Regions from separate parts of the Homo sapiens genome. Here region 1 is linked to region 2. Evidence: fine-mapped expression QTL. A gene starts in region 2. The other region holds a variant in brackets. All regions are shown on one strand. Distances are from middle to middle. Region 1 has its middle 120 kb from the start of PWRN4. Region 2 holds the start of MAGEL2 (MAGE family member L2).

Region 1 (2,915 bases), 210 kb before region 2:
CACAGTCTTGGGGAAATAAAACTTTTCTTGGGGACCTGCCATGTTGGAATCTCCATAAATAAGTCAGATAGGGCAGCCTAAGAAAGGTTTACTTAAATGAATGATATAAAATGGCTAAAATTTTGCATCAGAAAAAAAGACTTTAAATGACAAGAATGGTCAATTAGAAAAATATTCCCTCAAAATTTATCCTGAATTTAGCTGTTATTACATTATGAGAAAAAATCTGCCAAAAGTGGTTTCATTGGAAGAACTTTTGACTGCTGGTACCTACAAAGATTCTGATTTACAGATTTTCTAGTTGATTACTTCTGAAGATTCTATAAATATGAATAATAAGATAAAAAATTAGATTTGTGTTTCATCCAAGTGTACATCAAAAGTTATTCAAGCAATTTGGAATCTTCTAAATAGGATAAAGTTGAAACATTGAAAATATTGTGTTGCAATATTTGGCTAACATTTGAAAAAATGACAGCTAAATCTCTATTTTAAATCCTTTCTAAAGTAAATCCCAGTGGTATAAAATCAGCAAAAGGTAGCGTAAAAAAATAGTGAAAAGGAAAGGAAAGCCATCTTGGTGGAGATATCAGCAACTTTTATAACTAGATTACATAAGAGACCTCTATGCATCAGTAAGAGAAAAAGTCATAAGCCAGGGGAGATGGACAAATTATTTGAAAAACTACCACAACATAGGAGAGGATTAAACATGTTCACTGGCAAGTTGTATTTCCATGTTGTCCTTCTACAACAATGTACCCAAGCACACATTGCTGCCCTGTGAACACCAAGGACATCCGCCAGAGGTCGGGGTCACCAGGACGCTGACATTCTGGAAGTAAACAACGTTAATGGACAGTAAGTAAATCATTTTATTTTCCAAACCTTTAATTGTTTTTTATGATTGTGAATGTATTTTTATGCTTTAAGACTTCCTTATATAAAGCACTGTAGGAAAATTTTAAATGACAGATAAATGAAAAAAGTTTTGTTACCTTTATCTGCAGGGAGTTGGAGGTGTCACAAGTTATAAACATTGGAACATTTGTGAAATAAATATTTTGAAACAATTAAAATGTTACAGACTTTTCAGATCATATATCAGGAGTATATGCAGAAAAACATGAGAAGTACATTCCCCATATTTCACAGTAAAAATGGAGATGCATATATTTTTCCAATACAGAATAGTTTTATGTTCACCCTCACCAAACAACTCTTGACCAAATATTTAATGAATATGAGTTTTAGGGTCACATTATCATTAGTTCTCTTATGTCTCTGTCCTACCCAAACATAGAAATGTCCACCCTAGGGTCTCACTCCTATTCAGGCATCCAGCTGGACCTATCCATCCACAAAGCCTTCTCTGGGCTCCTGGCCAGGGCAGGAATAGAGCCTGGGATGGTATGTCTTTCAGAGTCACTGAAATATGTCAGAGGTTACCACGTGCTCCCTCAGGATTTCTGGGGGTTAGGAATAGAGCACGAGAATGTTTATTTGTGGTTTGTTAAGTTTCTTACAGAAGTCTGAATTGGAAACAGTGTCCTCTGACCCTCCTCA[G/T]GAGAGAGCGTGGTGTAAAGGGAGATAAAGTGTCTCTTCCTGTGGTCACAGAGCCTTCACTTTCGAGCCTGCTTTTAAGGGGTTTCCGTTCCTATCCCTCCAACCAAAGACTCTTGCCTAGTCCTCTGCTTTCCTTCATGTTGTGGAATCTAAGGGACACGTGTCACTGCTCATCTGAGTTGACCATACAGCAACCCTTGACTGCCAGCAGACCCTCTCCTGCCCACATCTCTGCATGCTCCTGGGCTTCAAGAAAACACTAGCCAGGACTTTTCTGCCTCTTTTTCCTGCACTCTCAAGGCTCTGCTGTCCTTGAATGAAGTCATACTCCCGCTTTTGAGCTCATCATTCACTTCTTGTGAAATCCCAGCTTCATGTTTGTTCCTGACTGCAAACCTTCACCTATTTGAGTCCTCCCTGCACCAAGGGCAGGGGCCCAGCAAGATTTGAAGGGGTGGGAGTGGTGGAGGGAGAGAGTACTCTCCTTCTCTGATCCCCTTGGCAACTCTTTTCTGGATGCCTGGTGTGAGCTTTGCTGAAGGGGCAGGGAGTCTGCAGGAAAGCGGCTCTGAAAGCCACAGACTTCCTCAACAGATGCAATTAGCACGTCCTGGATTATACTAGACTAGACTAGAGTGTGATGCCCCCAGCACAGGCCCTCCCTCCTCCCCTCACCCCAGGTCCATGTCCCAGCCAATGGGGGCCTCTGGTGGTCACAGAGGAATGGAGATGACCAGGTGCACATACCGATTTTTTTTTTCTGCTGAGCTGTTTATTCAGCCTTTCAGAATCTTCTTGTCACCCACCTTTAAATAACTCCCTTATGAAAAGCAGCTGCCCTTCCTTTCCATGGTTATCTGGGTGCATTTTTTACCCTCTGTGAATCCCATATCTCTTCCAGGTTTGCTTGATTGGGGTATTCACTTAATAGCTAGCGACTGACTCCTCTTTGTCTTTGGCTACTACAGTCTGTCTCTCCTAGTGGCACACATCCATATACTTTATGGCAGGACAGGGCATGATCTGGGGAGGGACTTCAAGGAGAGAACACAAGGGGCCTCTGGGCTGCTGGGGATGCTGTTTTTCTGGATCTGGGTGTTGGATACACAAGCGTGTTCACCTTGTGAAAATTCACTGTGTTTACCCTTAGAGTATTCAATTTTATGTAGTTTTCTTAAAAGAAAGCCAACAAGCAAATGAATTAGCAAAAAATAATAAACCAAAATATGAAACAGAAACAAAAAATTACTTAGGGGCTTAAGCAGAGAAACAATCCAGCAAAAACACACACACACACAGAGACACACACACACCACCCCCCACACATACACACAGATACCCTGACCCCC
Region 2 (2,915 bases):
TATCATCAAGCACCCTTAAAAATCTGACTGTTTTGAAAAGAGTTTCCTGGGAATAACAACATCCCTTAAGTGTCCAGAAAATCACTGAAACTTTACCCCCAAATTCTTCTATTATTGTTTAAGGCAATAATAACATTGGGAGTGTGTACATACCTTCTCTTGGGTCCATAAATTACCAAATTTGAGGACCCCTGGCTAAGGGTACCTGGGAAGGAGTGGGGTGTACCCTTCATCGTCCTCATCTGCCCCCTGGTGGCACGTTTTGTCACTCTGGACTCCTGCCGTAGGCTGCCAACAGCCTATTTAAACGAAACATCCTTGATATTTAGTGCTTTGTATATTTCCAGAAAGCTTTTCAATTACTGAGATTATCACTTCCTCTCACCATAAAGTTGTATAGCATTGCCCAATAATACTATTGTCATCTGCTTTATCTGTTAATACTTGATTTGTCTCATATTTAAACTGATTTTTGTCACGAGAAGTTTCCCCAGAAATTTTTTTATTCTTTGCCTGTTTTTCCTATATATCCAAATATATCAATTTTTGATCTATTTATATACCCATTTTGTTATCTTCAGGTGCGTTATTTGGTTTTCATTTTTTAAATTTCTTTCCCATTCTGCAGATGAAAAATACTGAGAAACCTACTCTGTTCCTGCATCCGAGCCATTCCACAGGCAGTTTTCCCATACTAAAAATGCTGTCTTCCACTGATGTGTGGCATGTCTCAGTTCCGTGACTTCTTTTCCTCTCTCTCTACTCGCTGCTGTCCCTTTTCTCCATGTGTCTCTAACATGCCTGTGTTCTTCAAGACCCAGTGCAACCACATTCCCTCCCACAACTCTATTTTCATGAGGAATAGCCAAGCAGGACTCCCAAGACATCATACAGGAGTGCCTACAGGGTATCTCTCCTTGGCAGTCCCACAGCACCGCAAATGCCCTGTGTCTGCCAATACTCATCAGCCTCTCTTCCCGTGTGCCTCTCCTGGGACCCTAAGAGAGTAACAGTCCCTGCAACTTCCCACTTTCTCCAGGCAGGGACTTGTGTGCCTTTTCCATGTCTTTGACTCCTTTATTCAATTATAATACAGGTATCTGTCTGCTATAACTCCTGGAACTCTCTTATGTAAATGCGCTTTTTTCATTCTCCGCCTCACATCTTAGCCCAGACCACACCATCTCCCCCCGCCGTCTTGGATACCTTCCATGTTTCCAGTGGTCTGCTCCCACTCCACACTGCAGTACAGTGATTTTTCTAAAACATGGATGGGTTCCTGTCACTCCCCTGTGAAAAGTCATCCATGTGGAGTCTGACTGGTCTGCATTTGGGGACTGGACAGAGTGAGAAGGGATCCTGTGTCAGCCAGGACTCCGGTAGACGCCCCTATGCAATATCCACTTGTGGTGGTCGGGGGCGGGGAAGGGGCGGGATTGAGCCCCCTTCCCCCCTCCTCCTTACTGCGGAAAGCTGCGGAGCGAGCAGCACTCACTTCCTATTCAGCATTCAGCAGGGAGGGAGCCTCTGAACAGCCACGTAGGCATTCTCTTCTCTCTGGAGGAAAAGGCCCAGCAGCTGTCCGAGGAAAAGACCCACCAGCTGTCAGCAAAGGGACATGTCGCAGCTAAGTAAGAATCTGGGTGACTCGAGTCCTCCGGCGGAGGCCCCGAAGCCGCCTGTCTATAGCCGCCCTACGGTTCTGATGCGGGCCCCGCCCGCTTCCTCCCGGGCTCCGCCAGTCCCTTGGGATCCACCTCCAATTGACTTGCAGGCTTCATTGGCCGCTTGGCAGGCACCTCAGCCTGCCTGGGAGGCCCCACAGGGCCAGCTGCCCGCCCCGGTGGTTCCGATGACCCAGCCTCCTGCCCTAGGGGGCCCGATAGTCCCGGCTCCCCCGCTGGGGGGCCCGATGGGTAAGCCTCCGACTCCCGGGGTCCTGATGGTGCATCCTCCACCTCCGGGAGCCCCGATGGCCCAGCCTCCGACCCCGGGAGTCCTGATGGTGCATCCTTCAGCTCCCGGAGCTCCCATGGCCCATCCTCCTCCTCCGGGGACCCCAATGTCCCACCCTCCCCCTCCGGGGACCCCAATGGCCCATCCTCCTCCTCCGGGGACCCCGATGGCCCATCCTCCTCCTCCGGGGACCCCGATGGTGCATCCTCCTCCTCCGGGGACCCCGATGGCTCATCCTCCCCCTCCGGGGACACCGATGGCTCATCCTCCCCCTCCGGGGACACCGATGGCTCATCCTCCACCTCCGGGGACACCGATGGCTCATCCTCCCCCTCCGGGTACACCGATGGCCCAGCCTCCAGCTCCGGGAGTCCTGATGGCCCAGCCTCTGACTCCGGGAGTCCTGATGGTCCAGCCTGCTGCTCCGGGAGCACCGATGGTCCAGCCGCCTCCAGCAGCCATGATGACCCAGCCTCAGCCTTCAGGAGCACCGATGGCCAAGCCTCCAGGTCCAGGAGTCCTGATGATTCATCCTCCAGGTGCGAGAGCTCCGATGACCCAGCCTCCAGCTTCAGGAGCACCGATGGCACAGCCGGCGGCCCCACCTGCACAGCCGATGGCCCCACCTGCACAGCCGATGGCTTCTTGGGCCCCGCAGGCTCAGCCTCTGATCCTGCAAATCCAGTCTCAAGTTATAAGGGCTCCTCCGCAGGTTCCCCAGGGCCCGCAGGCACCCCCAGCGCAGCTAGCCACACCCCCGGGCTGGCAGGCGACCTCGCCAGGATGGCAGGCCACGCAGCAAGGCTGGCAGGCCACTCCCCTGACTTGGCAGACCACGCAGGTCACCTGGCAGGCACCAGCCGTTACCTGGCAGGTGCCGCCGCCCATGCGCCAGGGGCCCCCGCCCATCCGCCCTGGCCCACCACCCATCCGCCCTGGCCCACCACCGGTGCGACAGG

The links.
Region 1: its variant is fine-mapped to the expression of MAGEL2 in lung (TOPMed, PIP above 0.99).

The regions. Positions count from the first base shown.
Region 1 is chr15:23,854,044-23,856,958 of GRCh38, reverse strand. No RefSeq gene overlaps it. Among named protein-coding and RNA genes, the nearest start is that of PWRN4, 120 kb to the left of the region's middle. The variant G/T (reference allele first, on the strand shown) is at 1,567.
Region 2 is chr15:23,646,446-23,649,360 of GRCh38, reverse strand. MAGEL2 (MAGE family member L2) reads left to right here and starts at 1,494. Exons shown (of 1, transcript NM_019066.5): 1 at 1,494-2,915. The coding sequence starts at 1,619. RefSeq lists an enhancer at 2,207-2,915.